Linked DNA regions of Homo sapiens. The protein of the gene in region 3 purifies or fractionates together with the protein of the main gene of each other region. This does not show direct contact. Each region holds a gene or a part of one and is shown on either strand. Other genes may lie near its edges. The genes, in order: DDX3X, KPNA4, NCBP1, THOC3, EIF3B, UPF3B and LIN28A.

Region 1 (3,306 bases), on a different chromosome or scaffold from region 3:
TACAGATTAACACTACCTCCACCAAATCCTCTGCTGCTACCGTGGCCACCTCCGCCACTGCGGCTGCTGCTTGCGCGGCTGCTGCTGAAGCTGGAACTGCTGGCACCGCTACTTTGTCGGTAGTCTCTGGCACCAAACCCTCCACTAAATCTGCTACTATAAGAAAAAAATTATGTTGGTTCACATGAAGATGAAATTCCACTAAAGTAACCTAACTCTTTCCTAATGACCAATTTCTAATTTTTCCATTCAAACAATTCCCCATCCAGCCATATTTTCCCCAACAGAGTGTCACCCATTCTAATACAACCCCTTACCAAAGAATCTAGGAAGCCTAAGATGATTAAGCTTTTTAAATACTGTACAGTTAACCTTGGACGTTATGCATGCAGAGGAAACACTATGAACTGTAAGTGAACACCCATTCCCCTCATTATATACTATTTATACCTCACCTCTTAGAACGTCCACGACTGCTACCCTTGTAGTGGTGTTCATAAGCCATGTTTTCTAACCAAGACGGCACTTCTTGTTTAGCTTCAACAAGAAGATCCAACAAATCCTTAGTAATATTTATGTTCCTCTCGTTAAAGAATGAGGTTGCCAGGCCTAAAAGAGTTCCCAAAAAAGTATATAAACAAAGGTCTTCCATAAAGTAACTTGCTACTATTCTTACTTTCCTACGTAGAAATATTTAAAATATTACCACGTAATATTTAAACAAGTGCTTTGAGCAAAATCTTTGTCACTTTCATTGTTAAAAATGTATTTTAGATCCTAGCAAGTTCTTTCCTGCACACATCACAGCAAAAAACAATGAAACCATCAAGTAATCAAATACTTACCAAGGTTTCCTACACGTCCCGTACGACCAATACGATGTACATATTCTTCAATATCACTTGGCAAGTCAAAATTGATAACATGTTTCACATTTGAAATGTCCAGTCCTCTTGCTGCTACCTGGAAAATAACTTTTATGAGATATGGCCCACTTAAAAGAAAACAAATACTTGAACATGCTCAATTTGAATAAAAGAAAGATGTTTATACATACTGCTGTAGCCACTAAAATTGGGCTTTTTCCTGAGCGGAACTGGTGAAGGGCCTCTTCTCTATCCCTCTGAGAACGGTCTCCATGGATGCTGGTACATGCGTATCCTTCATGGTATAAGAAATCCTCCAGAGAATCTGCACCCTTTTTGGTCTCCACAAACACTAAGGTCAGTGAATCCTTGCCTGTCGTTGAAAAATTATAGGTTTTTGTCACTAACATGGCTTAGTTCTCTTTGCACTTATGTATGCACAATTTTAATGTGTCAATTAAAATACATATATATCTTCTTAAAAACGGGCTTTCAACACAGCATGTTTTGAATTGAGGAGGAAAAGTAATAAAGGTAATCCAAATACATTTAAGAGATGGGGGTCTCACTAAATTGCCCAGGCTGAGAGTGCACTGGCCATTCGCAGGTGCAATCATGGCATACTACAGCCTCAGCCTGCCAAGTAGCTGGGACTACATGCACTGTACCACTGCACCCAGCCCAAATGGGTTATTACCAGAGCAATTAAATTATTCATAATTTTAGCTGGGTGCAGTGGTGAGTGCCTGTAGTCCCAGCTACTCTGGAGACTGAGGCAGGAGGATTGTCTAAGTCTAGGAGTTCTGGGCTGTAGTGTACTATGCCTATCAGGTGTCCACACTAAGTTTGGCATCAACATGGTAACCTCCCGGAAGCAAGGGAGCACCAGGTTGCCTAAGGAGGGGTGAACAGGCCCAGGTCAGAAACAGAGCAGGTCAAATACTCCCATGCTGATCAGTAATGAGATCACACCTGTGAATAACCCCTGCACTCCAGCCTGGGCAACAAAGAGAAACCCCCATGTCTAATAAAATAAAAAATTCATAATGTTACCTGTTGCATTTAGGAGGTCAAGCAGAAATGACCGTTTGTCTGATTCTTCCACCCAAACTACTTTCTGTGTGATGTTTTCAGAGGTAGAGCCAACTCTTCCTACAGCCAAGAAGATATATTCATCTAAGAAATCACGAGCCAGCATCTGAAAGAAAAAAAATTTTTATTATTACCTGAGATAAACAAATTTCTAAATAAATAAAATTTGCAACATCAAACAGTACCTGTATTTCCTTAGGAAAAGTAGCACTAAACATCATAGTGTGGCGGACACCCTTTGGAGGCATAGTATCTTGTTCGACTATTCTACGAATCTGAGGCTCAAACCCCATATCCAACATCCGATCAGCTTCATCTAACACCAAGTATCTGTCATGTCATGAAAAAAAACAAGCCTGAGTTTAGAATTTGAGGAGAAATCAACATGGTTTTAGTATGGCTGTTAGTATAATTACAAATACAATTGTATAGGTTATTACAATTATATATTCATTAAGATGGTGCCTCACACTGCATAATTTTACAGACACAGCACAGGATTCTTGCCACTACATAAGTCATTCAAGATTACACAGTCAAATTAGCCCATCCTAGTTGACTGTCCCACGAGCTGATCATTGTTGTAAGTCTCAACCAAGATGTTACTGATTTTTCAACATTAAAATTACCATGAACAAGCTTTTTGTGAAAGTTAGATGTCTGAAATACATCACTTCTCAGCCTTAACATTTAGACAATGTTAACATCACCACAAAACTAATGGGCAGTAACTTTAATACTGCATCCCATACATTTAAAAATTAACATACTTGGCCGGGTGCGATGGCTCACACCTGTAATCCCAGCACTTTGGGAGGCCAAGGCAGGCGGATCACCTGAGGTCAGGAGTTCGAGACCAGCCTGACCAACATGGAGAAACCCCGCCTCTACTAAAAATACAAAAATTAGCCCAGCGTGGTGGCACATGCCTGTAATCCCAGCTACCTGGGAGGCTGAGGCAGGAGAATCGCTTGAACCCGGGAGGCAGAGGTTGTGGTGAGCCGAGATCGCGCCATGGCACTCCAGCCTGGGCAACAAGAGCGCAACTCTGCCAAAAACAAAAGAACAAAACAAAACAAAACAAAAAAACAAAAACAAAATAAAACATACTTGCAAAAGTCTAATCCAATCTTTCCTCTTTCCATCATATCCACTAGACGTCCTGGAGTGGCTACTAACAAATGGCATCCACGTTCCAAGTCTCGAATCTGCTGACCAATATCGGCACCACCATAAACCACGCAAGGACGAACTCTAGATCGGTATGAAAACTATAAGCAAAAAAAATGTTATGAACTTCAAGGTCAAAATTTTTACATGTTCATAAAACATTTAATTAGAATCAATG
Region 2 (3,500 bases), on a different chromosome or scaffold from region 3:
GTTCACAACTCAGTTGCACAAGTACTTTTTCCTTGAGACAGTCGTCCTTAAGTAGAAGTTGGTATGCAGCAGAAGTGGCTTATATGTAATCTTCATTTTTTTCACACAATTAGAAAAGGCCAATATTTAATAAAAGTAATCATTTTTTACTGTTTCCTCAAGGAATTCTTAAGTGAGCTGACTTTTAAACAAATTTTAGATGTGAAATCAGTGACAACTATTGCATCTTGATGTCATTACCTTAATTCATTCTAAAGCACCAGCAGTCTTACCCCTATGGCATCAATTCAAGTGTTAATACAATTTTTTTTTTAAAAAAAGTATTAGTATTATCATTAGGAAAATAGTTTTGACCCTGTGTACTCTCTGTAAAGGTCTCAGGACCCACATAGGGGCCCGTGGACCATGCTTTGAGTGCCACTCTTTTAGTTTACCATTGCTTCTTTTGCACATGAGTGTCACTTTTAATTAATACAGGCTCTTAAAGGACCTTATAGTATAGGGGTTAAAAGACATGGACTGTAGAGTCACTTAGGTCTGGGTTTGAACTCTGGTTTCTCCACTTAGTAATTATGGAGGCTAACTTAATTATGTCTAAGCCTTTGAAATGTTTAACAATGCCTAGCATAAAGTACATGCAGAGTAAATGGAACCTCTTACTATTTCTGCCAACTTACATAGTCATACATTGCATCCAAGTAAACCCCTATGTTCCATATCAGAATAACATTTTGCTTACAAAATTCCTCTTGTACCTCTGTGTGCCATAATCCAAACCACATCATACAAATTTGGGAAGGCTTCTTATTCCCCTTATTTAACAGTCACCTGAAAACCTACTTTCTCCCACATACTTCAGCCAAATTGTCACATACATACTAGTTTATGACTTCATTTCTTTAATCCTATGTTTTAAGTGGGTTACTAAATGCTTTATGTAGATTTTGTCACTGTTTTCTCAAAACATTGTAAATATAATCAGAAAACAACTATAATTCACACTATTTAGTACCCAGAATGAAAATGATTTAAGGTCATAGATATTTGTTGGTAATACAAGATTAAGTTGATTATTAAAGATGCTAAACTTTCCCAGGCACAGTGGCTCATGCCTGTAATCCTATTGCTTTGAGAGGCTGAGGCAGGAGGATTGCTTGATACTGGGAGTTTGAGACCATCCTAGGCAATATGGTGAGACCTTGTCTCTACAAAAAAATAAAAATAAAAAATTTAGCTGGATGTGGTGGCACACACCTGTAGTCATACCTATTTAGGAGGCTGAGGCAGGAGGATCGCTTGAGCCCAGAAAGTGGAGGCTGCAATGAACTATGACCATGCCACTGCACTCCAGCCTGGGTGACAAGAATGAGGTCTCATCTCAGATAGATAGAAATTTTTAAATGCTGACTTATTTTCTATTACTGTTTATTTACTATTCGGACAAAATTTAGTCACCTGTCATTTTTTCCCTAAATTTTTATTTACTTTAAACTTAATGTAAATTAGATTTTAACTAATGATGTATTTTGACAAACATGGAATTTCATGAATTTTTTTACTAACAAAAGTCGGAATCCTAAGATAGTATGTTTTTTACTAGTTCAGTGATGGACATATTGTCTAATATTAGAAGGTAAATCATAGTCTATCTCAGTGTCCTGTTCTTTAATAAAAACTTTAGTTTGCACATATCTACTCTTTATGTTTTTTAAAGTATGTCTTTCTGGACCCTTGAGGTAAGTGTTACATAAATTTATTTAGTTGAGTAGTTTTATCCCGAAAGACCTATGTTAAGTGGTCTCTGCTTGGTTGTATTAAATGGCCCTGTCCTGTTTGCCACCTGTTCTTCCTCTTCACACTGGCTTTTTAGCCACTTTAAGCTGTTACTGGTCCAGAAAAACAAGCAAGATAATACCTTAAGGTTTTCAAATAATTGTTAACATCACTCCTTGTTCTTTAGTAGGTGTGAAACCCAAATATTCTCCAGCTCTTTTTAAAATAGTGCAGAGGATTTGGTTCCTTGAGGCCGGGAGTTTGAGACCATCCTAGGCAGTATAGTGAGACCTCATCTCTACAAAAAATAAAAAATTTAGCTGGGTGTGGTGGCACACACCTATAGTCCTACCTATTTAGGGTAGGTTTGGTTCCTTATTTCACTTTTGAATATTATGTGGAGATGTTCATTTTACTACAGATATATCTATAGAATTGGGTTCATTGTTGATCAGCTGTTTCAGACACCTTAAATTTGTTCACGTTTTTTCTCTTAATGTTGTGAATAATTTTTCCCAATTCCCTTTTTATTCTCCAGCTTTAAAACAATGACAGTACAGGTTGAGCGTCCAAATCCAAAAATCTGAAATCCACAATGCTCCAAAATCTGAAACTTTAAGCACCTACGTGATGCTTAAAGGAAACACTCATTGGAGCATACCAGATTTTGGATTAGGGATGCTCAGTCTCTAAGTATTATGCAAACATTCTAAAATCCAAAAAAATCCAAAATCTGAAACACTTGTGTTCCCAAGCATTTCACATAAGGGATACTCAATGATGAAAAGTTTAATTAAGACCAATAAACAAATAAAAAATAGGATCCGCCTCATTAGTCATTAGGGAAACACAGCTCTAAAGCATGATGAGATACCACTTTACACCCACTAGGATGGCAGTATATAAAAAGAAAATAACAGGTGTTGGTGAGGATGTGGAGAAAGTGGAACCCTCATACATGCCTGATGGGAATGTAAAATGGTACGGCTGCTTTGGAATGCAGTTTGGCAGTTCCTCAAAAAGTTAAACAGTTAACATGTGACCCAGCAGTTCTACTAATTAGATATAAATCCAGGAGAATTGCAAACATAATGTCTGCACAAAAACTTGTAAATGAGTGTTCATAGCAGCATTATCCATAACAGCCAAAAGAGGGAAACAACTTGGCTGGGCGCAGTGGCTCACGCCTGTAATCCCAAGCACTTTGGGAGGCCAAGGCGGGCCGGATCACCTGAGGTTGGGAGTTGGGAAACCAGCACTACCAACATGGAGAAACCCCGTCTCTACTAAAAATACAAAATTAGCCAGGCATGGTGGCGCATGCCTGTGATCCCAGCTACCTGGGAGGCTGAGGCAGGAGAATCACTTGAACCCAGGAGGTGGAGGTTGCAGTGAGCTGAGATCGGGCCATTACACTCCAGCCTGGGCAACAAAAGCAAAACTCCTTCTCAAAAATAATAAATAAATATAAATAATTTAAATAAATAAAATAAAAGAAGGAAACAACCCAAATACCCATTAACTGATGAATGCACAAAGTATGGTATATGCATACAATGGAGTATTGTTCCGCTATAAAATGAAGTATAATAGTTCACCCTTATCTGCAGTTTTAGTTACCTGCAGTCAACTGTGATCAGAAACTAGGTGAATATGTGATACAACAAGATATTAATATTTAGAGAGAAAGAGATCCCACATTCACATGACTTTTCTTACAATATATT
Region 3 (3,500 bases):
TGGCATCATACGCTTATTACTATAAAGCACCTCGAAAAGTACTATACAAGGGTGAAGAGCCTTGAGAAAGTAAAGCAAGTGTTTTTAGAAATTGATTTTAGCAAGACAGGGAGTCAGGAGGATAAAATTTTCTTACACTCTCAACATATATTTTGCTCTTACTGAATTATCAAAATTGCTGCTTCTCTCCCTTCTAAAAGTACCATGAAAAGAATCTTACCAAGTCTTCCTTTCCTTCCAGTGGGACTTAATGATGCAGTGAAGATTCTCTTCTATTACAAATCTTTCCACTGAATGACTCCCTGGCATGACAGGACCCTGGAAAGAAAACCAAATGTGTACACTACAGGCCTAGAAAACAGATTTCTTTTACTTATTCAACAAATATTTGAGAGACTATTATGTTCCAAGCACTAAACTGGGTGATGGGGATAAAAGTTCTGAAGTGTTAAAGCTCTATATTTCAGGAAATTCCATTGTCATGTTCACTTATACCCCAGAGTATCAGCTGTAGTGTTTTTTCTACCACATCTCATACCTAACCATACAACCACTGCCTACTTTACACACCAATTATTATATGAAACTAAATAATTTTGGATAATACAAGTCTTACAGAGTTTATTTTTTAAACCGAGAGTGAATTATTTCCATTAATAACTATGCAGAGAGAAAATTCTATTCAAACACCACATAGCCATAAAAAGTCATGCATGAATTGAAAAATGCCCATAATATACTGTCTAAGCTCAAAACATATTCCCTACATGGCATTATTTTATTCTTAAGTATATTCATAGCAAACAGGTTCAAAACACACAAAATAAACCTTTAATAATGACTTTTGGATGATTCTAATCTTTTTTTTACAATTTCTAATGTTTTTTAATAAACAACTTGTAAAAGGCCAGAACAGAAACAAAATCCTGTTCGTTTTGGGAGTAATATGTATTTTATATATTTATACTCTTCTAGCAAGGGATGGATATGCACCTTACAGAGGTGATACCAATTAAATACAAATTCAGGAGAAACAAATTTTGAGGTCCCATTCTAGTTTCCCCTGCACAAAAAAAAAAAAATACCCGACCACAAACATTAGCAGTCTTAAATGTAAACCAGATTTTCAGTTAGACATATCTAAGTAGATCATTACATAATTTTGACTAAAGTATTTGGTTACATATGGAATATAGCAAAGACGGCAGCAAGCTGATAATTTTGTATATGTAACTGATTATCTGAGAAATTTTTATTCCAAAATAGATTACATATATACTAAATTCCTACTGGTCATTAGCACTTTACCATAGAACAGAAAAGAGACAATAGAAGAAACTCAAATTTGACTTAGGTGGTAATATTAATTTTTATGGCAATAGTTTTCAACTGGGGGCAATTTTGCTCTTGAGGGGACATATTGCACTCTCTGGAGATATTTTTGGTTGTCAAAACTGAGGCAGGGAGAGTGCTATTGACATTTAGAGGGTAGAGATCAGGGACACCGCTGAGCATCTTACAATACACAGGATAGTACCCACAATGAAAATTATAAATTTTCTTAATTGTACAATATACAATTATAACAGTACAATGGCTGCCAGGAAACTTGACTTTGAAATAAAGAACATGTATATTAAAAATGATAAAGTCAGCTTAGACTAATCTTTGGAATTTTTTAATTAAAAATACTTCCAACATTTGTTTTCAAATAATCATACAATATGAATAATCACAAGACAGGCTGTGTTGCCTAGAGAGGGACCATACCTAAAACTAGGTACTTTTACTGAGAAATAACCTTATTAAGTATAATTATGGACAGGTGCAGTGGCTCATGCCTGTAAGCCCAACACTTTGGGAAAACGAAGCGGACGAATTGCTTGAGCCCAGGAGTTTGAGACCAACCAGGGCAACATGGCGAAATCTCAACTCTACAAAAAATTTGCCAGGCTAGGTGACACATGCCTGTGGTCCCAGCTACTCAGGAGGCTGAAGTGGAAGGATCGCTTGAGCACAGGAGGCAGAGGTTGCAGTGAGCTTAGATCTCACCTGCAGCCTGGGCAACAAAGTAAGACCCCATTTCGAAAAGAAAAAAATAAGAAAGAAAAATTGCCAGAATGACTGAGCATTCATCATGTGACAGACACTGTTCTTGTTCTATGCATTTTACATGTGAATAATTTAATCCTCATAACATGAGATATATACTACTATTATGAGATGTATACTATTATTATTACCTTCAGGAAATGAAAGCACAGGGAGGTAAATAACCTTCCCAAATTAACACAGCTAGTATTTGGCTAAACCAAGATTAAAACACAAACCAACGTAGCTCTAAAAACCCAAAACCCACACTCTTAGCCTGCAAACTGTGCACGTCTCTGTAATCTATTTACACATGCCAAATATAATTTCTTGCATAATGAGGTGATATCATTCACTGAATTAAAAAGTTAACTTCATTGCTACTGACCTTCTTAGATAAAAACAACTCAAAATTAAAACATACCACAGGCATAATTCAAGCGGGATTAACCCACAAGCACAATGCAACACAGGTCAATATCTAGGACTTTTAGTCGGTCACTTACCTCGGGATCATCTGTGTAATCAAACATTCTGAAGATGACCCTTGGCATTGGGTACACTGAATCTTCAGTGTGAGGAGGTGGTGTAAAAGGAGGCAGATTGTGCTGCAGTGCTTCACACAGGATGCTGTCAAAGGCAAGATAAGGTCTTAGGATGTGCCGTTCCTGCCAGCGATCCTTTTTCAATTTCTGAATCTGGGCCCACAGGCAATCTAAATACTAAAGACAGATTAATTTTTAATCATTAATATAATTAACATTTTGACTAGACAAAATGAAAAAATCACTACCCTTTAAAATACAGGATACAAAAGTAAGCTAACTTGTAAGATGGTACAAAAAAAGGTGCTAAGTTTTTGTTTTTATTTTACTTACAAAGTCTACCTGTTTGGAACTGTCTGTTTTGACATTTTTCAAATTAAGCATTTAAATAAATATATGTCAACTCTGTAATAGCTGGCATTCCAAAGAACAAGGGAATATTTCAATTACATTCTATCATCTATTAAAGACCTACCATACACCTTGAGCTATGAGAAGGAACTATCATGAAATGTAGAAACACAGTCAAAGGGTAAAATGGAATGGTCTGAGTATCTTACAGAGATAAGAATCTATTCAAGAGCTGACTGTGTTTGTATCACAAGGGACTGAAATCCATTTACCTCTTCTTGTGGATGTGGTTTATCAGCAGTCCATACCTGTAACATGGGTACATGAGTCTTTTGGCGTCTTCTAAAGATAAAAATGAAAATCTACATTTAGGCTTTTAAAAACAAGAGATGCTCAGTCACCCTCACAGTTATTAAAATGCAAATTAAAGCAATGAAATAACATTTTACCTACTGGAGTGGCAGATATCAACTGTTTTGATAATGTACTGTGTATCATCAAGATGCAGGTCAA
Region 4 (3,142 bases), on a different chromosome or scaffold from region 3:
AGCAGCAGTAATATTGTTGTTCTGAGACATCTATATGTTTACCATGGGAGATAGGTAATAAGTAACCATCGGATATTCTAATTCTATGATCCCCTGTGCCCTTGAGAACCAGAATACTCAATTTGGGAGGAAAGAAATATATTTGTAATATAGAAGAGGTTTAGTAAAATCCCTGGAGTCCTCAATTTTGATTGCAAGTTATCAACATGAATTCATAAGGTATTTTATCTTTAAATATATATATATATACACACACACACACACACACACGTAATTCCTAGGCCAACCCAGCAGTAATGAACATTCCTAACTTCAGTATCATTTCTCAGTAAAAGAATGTAAGGCTCCTTTTTTTTTTTTTTTTTTGAGGTGGAATCTCACTCAGTCGTCCAGAATGCTGGAGTGCAGTGGTGCAATCTAAACTTACTACAACCTCCGCCTCCCGGGTTCAAGCGATTCTCCTGCCTCAGTCTGCCAAGCAGCTGGGAATATACACGTGCGTCACCACGCCCAGATAATTTTTGTATTTTGAGTAGAGACAGGGTTTCTCTATGATTGCCAGGTCTCAAGTGATCCACTCGCCTCGGCCTCCCAAAGTGCCAAAGTGCTGGGATTACAGGCGTGAGCCACCGCACCCAGCCAGAATGTTAAGGCTTCTTGGAGAATGTTCTGATTAAAGGTCTGGGGCAAGAAATGCACAAGATGAACTTGGAACATCTTATCAAACCAGAGAGCAAAAAAACAGAAGACGATGGGATTATGTCAAAAAAGGTCTCAGGAACCAACTTGAAGAGGTTCTTATTGGCCAAAGATGGGATAATTTGAGCTTCAACAGGCGTAACAATTACAAGAGATGGAAACACACCAACTATGTTTAAAAACATCAGCCCGTAATGATTCTTTAAAAAAAAAACACCTAACTGCTCATCTTTGGAGGTAGCAGGAAACAAAATCATTATCTGACAAACAGAATCAAAATTTTATCCTGCCTTCCCTACATGAACTACACTACTGGGTAACCAAATCGCAGATGAGAAGCAGCATCTCTTTACACAACAGTCCAACACATAAACAGCATATGGAATCAGCAAAAGCCAAACTGGGAGAATCTCCACAGGTTAACAGTCTGGTTTTTCAACAGCTACGTTTTCGGAAGTTTCTTTTGAGTAATTTAAGAGATACAAAAGACATATCAATTTTTTTTTTTTTTAATGAGCAAAACTAGGGTATCTAGGGGCTGCACATGTGGTAGATAAACTATGAAGAAACACTATAAAAGTCAGGATAGTGTTTGCTTTTGTGGAAGGAAGTTGTAATTAGGACAAATCACCTGGATGGACTTCTGGGATGGCTGGAAAGAACTACTTCTCAACTTGGGCGGGGTTGCACAAGAGTTAAGCCTATAAGAGTTCATTAAGCTATACATTTATTTTATGTGGTTTTCAATATCTGTGTTTTATAATAAAAAGATTTTTCTTAAAAAGTTATAGAATCCCCATTGCCTACAAAATAAAACCCAAGATACTAAGCATAAAATAAAGGCCTTTTATAATCTGGTCCCAAATTAGACTTCATCTTCCCATTATCATGCCCTCTCTTATTTCCCTTATCTGCCACCACTCCCCCAACAACCCTGACCTAACCACTCTCCAAGTAAGTCATGCTCACTCACACCTGCTTTGTCAGTTATGTGGTTCCCTTTTGCTTATTCTTAAAATTCTGCTCATCTTTCAAGATCAAGCTCACAAGCTCCCTCCTTCAACCCCCCATATAGTATGTCTGTTCTTTCCGTGGAATTTCACAGCAAACTCCTGGCCTCCCACTCACAGAACCTATCTCACTTGGTCTTGCATTGTTCACCTGGGATAGTGGAAGGCTAGAATTGAACAGACCTGAATTTCAGCTCCACAGTTTCATTCATTTACAGAACAAATATTTACTAAGATCCTACTACGTGGAGCAGGTACAGGACTAGACATTAGGGACTCAACACTAAACAAGGCAAACACCATCCCTACCATCAAGGAATTCACAGTCTAACAGGAGACACAGGCAAATAAACATGCAATTACAATATAGAAAGAAAAGTGCTTCCTACAGAAAGTATATAAAATACGCCTCTAACCTACCTCTAACCTTGGGGTAGCGGGGGAGCTTCCCTGAAGGCAAAGTGATATTTCAGTTGAAACTTTAAGAGTACGAATTAGCCAGAGGTCGGGCTAATCACCTGAGGTCGGGAGTTGGAGACCAGCCTGACCAACATGGAGAAACCCTAAACTACAAAAAATACAAAATTAGCCAGGTGTGGTGGCACATGCCTCTAATCCCAGCTACTTGGGAGGCTGAGGCAGGAGAATCGCTTAACCTCGGAGGCAGAGGTTGCGGTGAGCCAAGATCACACCATTGCACTGCAGCCTGGGCAACAAGAGCAAAACTCTGTCTCGAAAAACAAAAAAAAAGGGAGTACGAATTAGCCATAATTCAAGGTGCATCCAGTTCTAGCACACACTAGCTGACTACTGATGTAACCTCTCACCCTCAGATCCTCATCTGTCAAATGAGAAGCAAATCATCAACCCCTAGAATTTCTGTAAGGACTCAGTAAAATATAAAGTATATAAAATATACAGCTCAAATGTACTTAAGACAGGTTAGGATTCTCTCTTACTATTTGTGTTTTAAGCTCCTTCAGGATAGGCTCACATCTAATTCATCTCCATATCTGACACAGCACCCAGCACAAAGACATGACAGTCCCCTAAGCTAGACCCCCTCACCTGAGGATGTTGATACAACCATTGCCATTTGTCAGGAAGAACATATTATTGTCATTGTTCCAGGAGATTTCGTTGACCTCGAACTTGAACTGCTCTTCTGCTTTGGAACGGTGTGTCTTGGCATCAATAAAGGTCACCACATCATCCTTGTTGCCTACAGCAATGGTCTGCCCATCAGGACTCCAGCAGATATTAATGTTCTCCCCTGGGAACCCAGACATAATCAGCAAGATAATCTGTTTGCTCATAATCTTCCACAAGTTTATTGCACTATCCTAGAAAGAAGACCAGAGCTTTCTTCCGGGCTTACTCATTAAAGTCCTAGACAATGGAAGGGAGCTACCACTTATGATTCAACAATAAGT
Region 5 (3,500 bases), on a different chromosome or scaffold from region 3:
CCGCCTTTGCCATGATGGCGGATGTCACAGCACAGCCCTCATTTTGGGAATGAGGCTCACCTTTGAGGCTTTGGACTGACTCAAACGATCCTTCTGTTCAAAGATCTTAGAGTATTTCTTCAGATCCTTTTTAATTTGCTGAAACAAAAGACCCATCACTCAGGATTTAACATTCAAAGCAACAAGCACAAATGCAATCTTCAGAGTTGCCAACATGACATGACACCCAAAGCCATTCACAGAACACAGCTTCCCAGGAGCGCTCGCATGCTCCTTTCTCCATGACACCCAGGGTCATTCACACAACACAGCTTCCCAGCAGCACTCGCGCCTGCTCCTTCCTCCATGACACCCAGGGTCATTCACACAACACAGCTTCCCAGGAGCGCTCGCGCCTGCTCCTTCCTCCATGACACCCAGGGTCATTCACACAACACAGCATCCCAGGAGCGCTCGCCTGTTCCTTCCTCCATGACACCAAGGGTCATTCACACAACACAGCATCCCAGGAACGCTCGCCTGTTCCTTCCTCCATGACACCGAGGGTCATTCACACAACACAGCATCCCAGCAGTGCTCGCGCCTTCTCCTTCCTCGACACCCAGGGTCATTCACACAACACGGCTTCCCAGGAGCGCTCGCGCCTGCTCCTTCCTCCTTGACACCCAGGGTCATTCACAGAACACGGATTCCCAGGAGAGCTCGCGCCTGCTCCTTCCTCCATGACACCCAGGGTCATTCACAGAACACAGCATCCCAGGAGCGCTCGTGCCTGCTCCTTCCTCCATGACACCCAGGGTCATTCACAGAACACAGCATCCCAGGAGAGCTCGCGCCTGCTCCTTCCTCCATGACACCCAGGGTCATTCACAGAACACGGCATCCCAGCAGTGCTCGCGCCTTCTCCTTCCTCGACACCCAGGGTCATTCACACAACACGGCTTCCCAGGAGCGCTCGCGCCTGCTCCTTCCTCCTTGACACCCAGGGTCATTCACAGAACACGGATTCCCAGGAGAGCTCGCGCCTGCTCCTTCCTCCATGACACCCAGGGTCATTCACAGAACACAGCATCCCAGGAGCGCTCGCGCCTGCTCCTTCCTCCATGACACCCAGGGTCATTCACAGAACACAGCATCCCAGGAGCGCTCGCGCCTGCTCCTTCCTCCTTGACACCCAGGGTCATTCACAGAACACGGATTCCCAGGAGAGCTCGCGCCTGCTCCTTCCTCCATGACACCCAGGGTCATTCACAGAACACAGCATCCCAGGAGCGCTCGTGCCTGCTCCTTCCTCCTTGACACCCAGGGTCATTCACACAACACAGCATCCCAGGAGCGCTCGTGCCTGCTCCTTCCTCCATCTTTCACTTTGAGACGGACTTTCTCCCTGGGATTTAACCCTCCTCTTTGCTCTGACCTAAGACCAACGGCCTATTTTACCACAATAATGTAAATCCCAGACAAGCCGCTTCTAATCCCAGCAGGACTTTTTAATGGCCCTGGCATCTTTTTATCCACCCCTCGGGTTCATGCAAAACTTCCCTAAAGAAGCTGAAAGCCTCAAGTTACTATCCTAAAGCTGTTCTATTCCATTCAGTTCTCACTGTTCCTGCGTCTCTTCAAAGAATCCTTGCAAATGTCACGTTTTTATCCCCCAGTCACCACCCTAACAATAACAGAAAAAACTGACACCTTTTCAACGCCACAATTGCCTCCATGTGCCCTGCACCCGGGGGTGGGGGCATGCTGACCTTGATCTGTTCCTGGCTCAGGAGTGTGGGAGGCCGGGGCCGCCACAGCAGCTGGCAGAAGCGGTCCTTGTTGTTCTTCTGCAGGAGGCGTCCCTGGAAAGTCCACAGCCAGTACGCGTTGTCCACCTAGGCCAGGGCAGGGACACACCAGGACACAGAGGGGTCAGAGAGCCACAACCGTGACTATGTCACTTGCTGAACAAGGTCCTGGGTATCGGGGACACGTGTGAAGCAAACAAAGCTCTGCCTGTGCTGAGCTGACAGCAGGGTAGGTGGGCAGTCAATGCAAGACACCTCCATTATGCAACCGACCCGGAGTGCGGGGCACGGAGCAGCTGGAGCAGCGCTCATCACAGCACAGGCCTGCACATTCTGGCTGGCAATAAGAACCCCATGCTGGATGTAAGCTAACTGCCTCACTACTGCGCCGCTGAACCCCGTGCTGGATTTAAACTGGACTGAACCCTGTGCCAAACGTAAGCTAACTGCATAGCACTACTCACTGCTGAGCCCTGGGCCGGGTGTGAGCTGTGCGGAGCCCTGTGCTGGATGTAAGCTAACTGCATCACTACACGCCGCCTAGTTCCGCTCTCCTCATGGCAGGCCTCTCTCATGAAGGAGGGCGCCTTCACTGGCACTCAGCATAAACTCCTTGTTGCAGGCCGGCATTTTGGAAGCTAAGTGTTCATAACTCAAGGAGAGTGGTCAACAGCTTAAAAAGTCTTTTTTTTTTTTTTTTTTTTAATGGGGCTAGGGTTTCGCTATGTTGCTCAGGCTAGTCTCAAACTCCTGGGTTCAAGTGATTTTTCTACCTCTGCCTCCTGAAGTGCTGGGATTACAGGTGTGAGCCACTGTGCCTGGCCTAAAGTGATTTCAAGTGTCAAGGCAGGCCCCACCGCAGTGACATCTGAACATACCTGGACACAGGCTGTGATCAACATATCCTGATTCGAATGCGAAGATTTCTAACTCTAGACACTTGCAGTAACATTTGGGAAGTTGATATTCCTACAAATTCTGTATCTCATTAAACAAAATTACCCGCGTTTGGTTTCACAGGCTCTATTGGCATGGACTAGTTCAAGTATCAGTGCCTCCATCAATGTTTTTACAAGTCACTAAATACTGAAAGTCCTTGACAAACTTAACCAGCAGTTTTGGAATACGAGTTGTGGGTAACGCGGCAGCTGGACTCAACCACTGACCCCAAAACAGATCTTAATGTCTGCGGTTATGGAACTCTGTTCAGACTTCAAAGGAAACGACTCCTCTCTGCAGACATTCTCACTCCTTTTCAGGGGTCCCTGGGCCCAGGGTAAGACCCCCCACCTCCCCGCAACCATGAGCAGGGGCTGCTCCTGCACTCGGCGCCACCTCTTCTACAACCCAGAATCCTCCTCCTCCTGCCACTAACACCAGCCAAGGCTTCTGTTCAACACAGAGGCTTGGTGCCCCTTCCCTGAGGTCCCAGGACAGCACCAGAGTCAGCAGCTAGCCAGCACTCCCTGCTTCTATCCACAGTCAAAACTATGCCCCACAGGCCTGCACCTTATGGCTCCACCAGGACACAGAGGTGACGACGTAGCGCCCAGTAGGATCCCATTCGACGTCGGAAGCCATGTAGTGCTCTGCGATGTTCATGACCGTGCAGTCCGAAGTGTCCACAAACGCTAAGGCACCGTTCATACTGCAAAGACAGACAGGACCGTCAGGCTTCATGGAGACGCATACCTCCTGGCATCCCACTCC
Region 6 (3,500 bases), on a different chromosome or scaffold from region 3:
TTGTATTTATATTACATTTGTGTGAAACTAAATAGGTCAAAGAATTTTTCCCACTTTAATGGATTCTCATAATGCTGTGAGGCAGGTATTACCATCTGCAATTTACAGTAACAGTCTCAGAGAAACTAGTAACTTCCCTGAAGTCACACAGCTAGCAACTGATGGAGGTAGGAGACTTAGGTACTGTGATGAAAAGACTGTTGCCCTGATTCTTTTTGCCCACTTACCTATTAATTCTCTATTTTTTGCTTCTATTTCCTCTAGCAGTGTCTCTGGAGTAGATGTCATTTTCTCATTATCTGTGGCATAACTTTCCAAAAACTTTCTATATTCTGGATCTAAATAATCATTTGAGGAAACAGAAAATATAATAGACTTTAAACAAAAAAAGAAGACATTATCTACAATACTGATTTATCAAAGAAGATAATTTTTTACTTCGTGGAAGATTAAAAAAAACCAAACCATACCCACAAGGTAGACTATTTAGAGCTTAATTGGTCACTTGCTCTCAGGACTCCTATCACTGATACTCACTATAGGAATCTGGTATAACATGGGGTCAGGAAAAATGAGACGCCATGCATTATAACAGAACCACTAGGGGTATTACATAGTTTGCTTTTAAAAGTCACTGTCCTACTAAACTAAGTTAGGTGTTCCAAAAAGATAAATTAGAGAGAAGTCCTAGATGTGGCACTTGAGGTGATGGGAATTCCTGGAGTTCTCTCCTAGACCTCTAACATCAGAAAGGGTGACACATCTAAGCCATTATATTGCTTGTTTCTATGTGTCACTTGATCAAGTCTTCCAGATCTAAATCTGTAATAAAACCAGTATCACAGCTATGTGTTATTGAGTCCTTACCGTGTTTTCTTTATAAAATACCTGTAATAGTAACAAATGATGGAAATTAAACTAGATGATTCTAAAGTAACAATCTGATATAAAATATGGTCCTAGTCCTTATCCAACATAAAGAGTTGTGTAACAGCTATCTAACATAACATTACAGAGGTCTCAAAATCTGGAGCCAGTGTACCTTAAATGGCAATTATTTTGGTTTTTCAGTTCTTGTATTTCTTTCTTTCTTTCTTTTTTTTTGAGACGGAGTTTTGCTTTTGTTGTCCAGGCTGGAGTGCAATGGTGCGGTCTCAGCTCACTGCAACCTCCGCCTCCCGGGTTCAAGTGATTCTTCTGCCTCAGCTTCCCAAGCAGCTGGGATTACAGGTGCCCGCCACCATGCCTAGCTAATTTTTGTGTTTTTAGTAGAGATGGGGTGTCACCATGTTGGCCAGGCTGGTCTCGAACTCCTGACCTCAGCAACTCTGCCCGCCTTGGCCTCCCAAAGTGCTGGGATTATAGGAGTGAGCCACCGCGCCTGGCCTCAGTTCTTCTATTCCTGTTCAACCTAATACTATGTGTGTAGCTAATTGTATATCCAAAGACCAGAAAATAGGAGTGACAACTTCAGCTACTTTATACAAAGTTACCTGGGTATGGAAATTTTCCCATGACAGTTCAAACCTTCTTCTTTATAAATATAATGGAAACCAAAAGTCAAATAAATAATCATAAAAATGGTGAGGCCTCAAGAAGCACCTGTTAAACTTTGAAACCTGATTTTTTTCCACTATTTTCTTTTTCTTTTTTTTTTGAGATGGAGTTTCGCTCTTGTTGCCCAGGCTGGAGTGCAATGGTGTGATCTCAGCTCACTGCAACCTCCGCCTCCTGGGTTCAAGAGATTCTCCTGCCTCAGCCTCCCGAATAGCTGGGATTACAGGCATGCACCACCATACCCGGCTAATTTTATATTTTTAGTAGAGACAGGGTTTCTCCATGTTGGTCAGGCTGGTATCAAACTCCTGACCTCAGATGATCCGCCCGCCTTGGCCTCCCAAAGTACTGGGATTATAGGCGTGAGCCACCACGCCTGGCCTTTCCACTATCTTCTAATCAATAAACCTATGGTGATTTGTTACTCAATAGTCAACATTATATTGTTCAATGGTTGAAGAATGAAATGCCCTAGCCAAAGAGAGCAGAGATTCTGTGCAAGAAACTCTCTCTAGTCTAACAATTAAGCAAAGCTTCCATCGGCAAATAACATTTCTCACTTACTTTATTTTGTATATTTTCTAATTTAAAATTTTGGGGTCGAATTAACTCTCACAAAGATATTATTTTTAAAAACCCCACAGCAATAGCATTATATAATTAGAGCTATACTGTACCATCATCGATAGTCCCGACTTTGGTATCTCTTTTCTTAGTCTTCTTTTTTGCAGCTTTTTGAAAAGGTGCAAATTCTACTATAGCGGGATATTCCTGACCTGTTTAGAAAAAAAATACCACACTTGCTATAACAAAGAAAATGTCAAAAGTGGATATAAGGGAATCAACCCATTGCTTTCTATGACTCTTTTGATGGCAGTCATCTGAAGAGGGTCTCCCAAAGGCATAAAGCACACTGGCACAACCATAATCAACATACTACAAAAGGAGCCACAAATTCACACTGATAACATAGTGAAACAACACGGCATGAAAGTAAAATATTCATATAAATTCAACTTATAAAATGTGATATTTTAATGTGAAAAAGACCCTACAAACTATTTTTCATTTTAAAATGTTAGAAATCTCCAAAATAGGCAAATCTATAGAGACAGAACGTAGAGTAGTAGCTGCCTGGAGTTTGGGGTAGAAGTGGTGAGAAGAATGAGGAGTGACAACTAATGGGTGGGGTTTCTCTTAGGGGTGATGAACATGTTCTAAATTTAGATTGTGGTGATAGGCTCATAAGCCTATGAATATACTAAAATTCACTGAACTGTATACTTTAAAAGGGTGACTATTTCAGGCATGTGAATTATATCTCAATAAAGCTGTTATTTTTTAAAAGTGTAACTATTTGAGGTGATGTGTTATGTGAGGTGATGAATGTGTTAACTTGATTGTATATATTTCATAATGTATATATGTATACATTATGTATACATTTCATAATGTATATATGTATACAATATGTATACATTTCATAATGTATACATTTCATAATGTATACATATATAAAATTATCACGTTGGGCTGGGCACCGTGGCTTATGCCTATAATCCCAGCATTTTGGGAGGCCGAGATGAGAGGATCACCTGAGGTCAGAAGTTTGAGACCTGCCTGGCCAACATGGTGAAACACTGTCTCTACTAAAAATACAAAAATTAGCTGGGCGTGGTGGCACGTGCCTGCAATCCCAGCTACTCTGGAGGCTGAGGCATGAGAATCACTTGAACCCAGGAGGCAGAGATTGCAGTGAGCCGAGATCATGCCACTGCACTCCAGCCTGGGCGACAGAGTAAGACTCCGTCTCAAAAAAATAAATACATAAAAATAAAAATAAATAAAAATACAAAAATTAGCCAGGCGTGATAGTGCACGCCTGTAATCCCAGCTACTTGGGAGACTGAGGCAGGAGAATCACTTGAACCTGGGAGGCGGAG
Region 7 (3,500 bases), on a different chromosome or scaffold from region 3:
CTGAAACCTCTGCCTCCGGGGTTCAAGCAACTCTCCTGCCCCAACTGCCCAAGTAGCTGGGATTACAGGCGCCCACCACCACACCCGGCTAATTTTTGTATTTTTAGTAGAGACAGGGTTTCACCATGTTGGCCAGGCTGGTCTCGAACTCTGGACCTCGTGATCCACCTGCTTCAGCCTCCCAAAGTGCTGGGGTTAAAGGCGTAAGCCACCGTGTGTGGCTGAGCCACCATGCCCAGCTATTTTTACTTTTATTTTATTTATTTATTTTTGAGACGAAGTCTTGCTGTGTTGCCCAGGCTGGAGTGCAAAGGCGCCATCTTGGCTCACTGCAACCTCTATAGTGTGACACTTTAAATTTCGTAATTTTATATTTGTTGATTTCTTCCAAATGCTTGTATTTACAAATTTTTCTGTTTGTTGTTGTTTGTTTGTTTGTTTTTGAGACAAAGTCTCACTCTGTCGCCCAGGCTGGAGTGCAATAGTGTGATCTCAGCTCACTGCAACCTTTGCTTCCTGGGTTCAAGCAATTCTCCTGCCTCAGTCTCCCAAGTAGCTGGGATTACAGGTGCCCGCCACCACGCCCAGCTAATTTTTTTTATTTTTAGTAGAGACAGAGTTTCACCATGTTGGCCAAGCTGGTCTCGAACTCCTGACTTCAGGTGATCCTCCCGCCTCAGCCTCTCAAAGTGCTAGGATTATAGGTGTGAGCCACCGTACCCGGCCCTCTGTTCTATTTTATTAAGAACTTTAAACCTGAATAGCTACAAAAATGTCATGGCATCTGCTTATATAATTACGATTTTTGTTAATGTACTGGTAGACTTTGTTGTTCTTAATCGTAGTGACTCTTTGAGTCAGTTTCCTTACCAGTAAAATAGGAGTACCATCACATTTGATTCCTACCCTACAGGAATAAGAGTTCCTTGTCTTTTGGTATAATAATGGAAATTAATGTTAAAATTTACTGCATTTCCCTTCACCAGAGTAAGCTGCACATGGAAGGGTTCCGGAGCTTGAAGGAGGGTGAGGCAGTGGAGTTCACCTTTAAGAAGTCAGCCAAGGGTCTGGAATCCATCCGTGTCACCGGACCTGGTGGAGTATTCTGTATTGGGAGTGAGAGGCGGCCAAAAGGAAAGAGCATGCAGAAGCGCAGATCAAAAGGAGACAGGTATGGATTGGAAGGCAGCTTATATAGGTTGCTAAGGGCATCCCCAGTCTCCCAATCCTGTCACTTTTTGGGTCACACTGCAAAAGACAAAGGGAAGCCTGTGGTCCCTGGCAGCATCTGGAAGGCTGAGCGCCTGCAATAGGTGTGGGCAAGGGCAGTAGGTGAGGAGGCCACTGGGGGTGACTTAGTGCTACTTGGGACAAGTAAGTTTGCTCTGTGGTCTCTAAGCCTCAATTGTTAAGTGAGGCAGTGATACTAACATCCTAGGATGGTTTTAGAATTAAAGGAGATCATAGATTTGCAAATGGTGGGACAAGACAGTATTATCTATATCTGTTGCTGCTTTACCAGGTCTGCAAATGGCTGGTTTCCTTAATCTTGCTTGGGCTTAAAGCCCCTTAGCTCTGAACAGATACTATAATTTGGCTTCTTTAATTTCTCCTATATTAAGGGTATGGAAGAATCTCTCCTATCCCCCAAGTTGCAGTTCCTAGTTGGGGTCAGTAACTTATATTTCTGGTATCTTGGTATTTTCAAGTTGACATGAATCTGAAGAGATCACCTAGACAATTAGATGTGGAAAGGACTTAGAGATCATTTAGTAATAGTCCTCCTTTTGCAAGTGGGAAGTTTGGTCTCTGGGAAGGGAAGTAAGTGACAAACCTGTACCAGAGCCCAGGTGTCCTCATTCGTGGGAGGCATCTGGCCTCTTCTTGCTCCTTTCTCTTACTTTTACGATCTTGCTTTGTACTAGGTGCTACAACTGTGGAGGTCTAGATCATCATGCCAAGGAATGCAAGCTGCCACCCCAGCCCAAGAAGTGCCACTTCTGCCAGAGCATCAGCCATATGGTAGCCTCATGTCCGCTGAAGGCCCAGCAGGGCCCTAGTGCACAGGGAAAGCCAACCTACTTTCGAGAGGAAGAAGAAGAAATCCACAGCCCTACCCTGCTCCCGGAGGCACAGAATTGAGCCACAATGGGTGGGGGCTATTCTTTTGCTATCAGGAAGTTTTGAGGAGCAGGCAGAGTGGAGAAAGTGGGAATAGGGTGCATTGGGGCTAGTTGGCACTGCCATGTATCTCAGGCTTGGGTTCACACCATCACCCTTTCTTCCCTCTAGGTGGGGGGAAAGGGTGAGTCAAAGGAACTCCAACCATGCTCTGTCCAAATGCAAGTGAGGGTTCTGGGGGCAACCAGGAGGGGGGAATCACCCTACAACCTGCATACTTTGAGTCTCCATCCCCAGAATTTCCAGCTTTTGAAAGTGGCCTGGATAGGGAAGTTGTTTTCCTTTTAAAGAAGGATATATAATAATTCCCATGCCAGAGTGAAATGATTAAGTATAAGACCAGATTCATGGAGCCAAGCCACTACATTCTGTGGAAGGAGATCTCTCAGGAGTAAGCATTGTTTTTTTTTCACATCTTGTATCCTCATACCCACTTTTGGGATAGGGTGCTGGCAGCTGTCCCAAGCAATGGGTAATGATGATGGCAAAAAGGGTGTTTGGGGGAACAGCTGCAGACCTGCTGCTCTATGCTCACCCCCGCCCCATTCTGGGCCAATGTGATTTTATTTATTTGCTCCCTTGGATACTGCACCTTGGGTCCCACTTTCTCCAGGATGCCAACTGCACTAGCTGTGTGCGAATGACGTATCTTGTGCATTTTAACTTTTTTTCCTTAATATAAATATTCTGGTTTTGTATTTTTGTATATTTTAATCTAAGGCCCTCATTTCCTGCACTGTGTTCTCAGGTACATGAGCAATCTCAGGGATAGCCAGCAGCAGCTCCAGGTCTGCGCAGCAGGAATTACTTTTTGTTGTTTTTGCCACCGTGGAGAGCAACTATTTGGAGTGCACAGCCTATTGAACTACCTCATTTTTGCCAATAAGAGCTGGCTTTTCTGCCATAGTGTCCTCTTGAAACCCCCTCTGCCTTGAAAATGTTTTATGGGAGACTAGGTTTTAACTGGGTGGCCCCATGACTTGATTGCCTTCTACTGGAAGATTGGGAATTAGTCTAAACAGGAAATGGTGGTACACAGAGGCTAGGAGAGGCTGGGCCCGGTGAAAAGGCCAGAGAGCAAGCCAAGATTAGGTGAGGGTTGTCTAATCCTATGGCACAGGACGTGCTTTACATCTCCAGATCTGTTCTTCACCAGATTAGGTTAGGCCTACCATGTGCCACAGGGTGTGTGTGTGTTTGTAAAACTAGAGTTGCTAAGGATAAGTTTAAAGACCAATACCCCTGTACTTAATCCTGTGCTGTCGAGGGATGGATATATGAAGTAAGGTGAGATCCTTAACCTTTCAAAATTTTCGGGT

What was found.
Region 1: the proteins of NCBP1 (region 3) and DDX3X purify together in Homo sapiens (co-immunoprecipitation; 2 studies listed by BioGRID and IntAct, with this or other methods). This does not show direct contact.
Region 2: the proteins of NCBP1 (region 3) and KPNA4 purify together in Homo sapiens (co-immunoprecipitation; 3 studies listed by BioGRID and IntAct, with this or other methods). This does not show direct contact.
Region 4: the proteins of NCBP1 (region 3) and THOC3 purify together in Homo sapiens (affinity purification with western blotting; 2 studies listed by BioGRID, with this or other methods). This does not show direct contact.
Region 5: the proteins of NCBP1 (region 3) and EIF3B purify together in Homo sapiens (affinity purification with western blotting; 2 studies listed by BioGRID and IntAct, with this or other methods). This does not show direct contact.
Region 6: the proteins of NCBP1 (region 3) and UPF3B purify together in Homo sapiens (affinity purification with western blotting; 2 studies listed by BioGRID and IntAct, with this or other methods). This does not show direct contact.
Region 7: the proteins of NCBP1 (region 3) and LIN28A purify together in Homo sapiens (affinity purification with mass spectrometry; 3 studies listed by BioGRID and IntAct, with this or other methods). This does not show direct contact.

Annotation. Positions count from the first base shown.
Region 1 is NC_000023.11:41,344,162-41,347,467, reverse strand, and holds part of DDX3X (ATP-dependent RNA helicase DDX3X), read right to left. Parts: intron 3,230-3,306; coding exon 3,069-3,229; intron 2,289-3,068; coding exon 2,144-2,288; intron 2,065-2,143; coding exon 1,920-2,064; intron 1,240-1,919; coding exon 1,058-1,239; intron 964-1,057; coding exon 846-963; intron 610-845; coding exon 456-609; intron 157-455; coding exon 17-156; intron 1-16. UniProt on the Homo sapiens protein: Multifunctional ATP-dependent RNA helicase. The ATPase activity can be stimulated by various ribo-and deoxynucleic acids indicative for a relaxed substrate specificity.
Region 2 is NC_000003.12:160,555,572-160,559,071, reverse strand, and holds part of KPNA4 (importin subunit alpha-3), read left to right. Parts: intron 1-3,500. UniProt on the Homo sapiens protein: Functions in nuclear protein import as an adapter protein for nuclear receptor KPNB1. Binds specifically and directly to substrates containing either a simple or bipartite NLS motif.
Region 3 is NC_000009.12:97,647,321-97,650,820, reverse strand, and holds part of NCBP1 (nuclear cap-binding protein subunit 1), read right to left. Parts: intron 3,330-3,500; coding exon 3,260-3,329; intron 2,814-3,259; coding exon 2,598-2,813; intron 319-2,597; coding exon 221-318; intron 1-220. UniProt on the Homo sapiens protein: Component of the cap-binding complex (CBC), which binds cotranscriptionally to the 5'-cap of pre-mRNAs and is involved in various processes such as pre-mRNA splicing, translation regulation, nonsense-mediated mRNA decay, RNA-mediated gene silencing (RNAi) by microRNAs (miRNAs) and mRNA export.
Region 4 is NC_000005.10:175,962,174-175,965,315, forward strand, and holds part of THOC3 (THO complex subunit 3), read right to left. Parts: intron 2,983-3,142; coding exon 2,778-2,982; intron 1-2,777. UniProt on the Homo sapiens protein: Component of the THO subcomplex of the TREX complex which is thought to couple mRNA transcription, processing and nuclear export, and which specifically associates with spliced mRNA and not with unspliced pre-mRNA.
Region 5 is NC_000007.14:2,375,327-2,378,826, reverse strand, and holds part of EIF3B (eukaryotic translation initiation factor 3 subunit B), read right to left. Parts: intron 3,439-3,500; coding exon 3,300-3,438; intron 1,878-3,299; coding exon 1,752-1,877; intron 139-1,751; coding exon 61-138; intron 1-60.
Region 6 is NC_000023.11:119,842,964-119,846,463, forward strand, and holds part of UPF3B (regulator of nonsense transcripts 3B), read right to left. Parts: intron 2,334-3,500; coding exon 2,235-2,333; intron 339-2,234; coding exon 228-338; intron 1-227. UniProt on the Homo sapiens protein: Involved in nonsense-mediated decay (NMD) of mRNAs containing premature stop codons by associating with the nuclear exon junction complex (EJC) and serving as link between the EJC core and NMD machinery.
Region 7 is NC_000001.11:26,424,317-26,427,816, forward strand, and holds part of LIN28A (protein lin-28 homolog A), read left to right. Parts: intron 1-986; coding exon 987-1,171; intron 1,172-1,925; coding exon 1,926-2,142; 3' UTR 2,143-3,500. UniProt on the Homo sapiens protein: RNA-binding protein that inhibits processing of pre-let-7 miRNAs and regulates translation of mRNAs that control developmental timing, pluripotency and metabolism.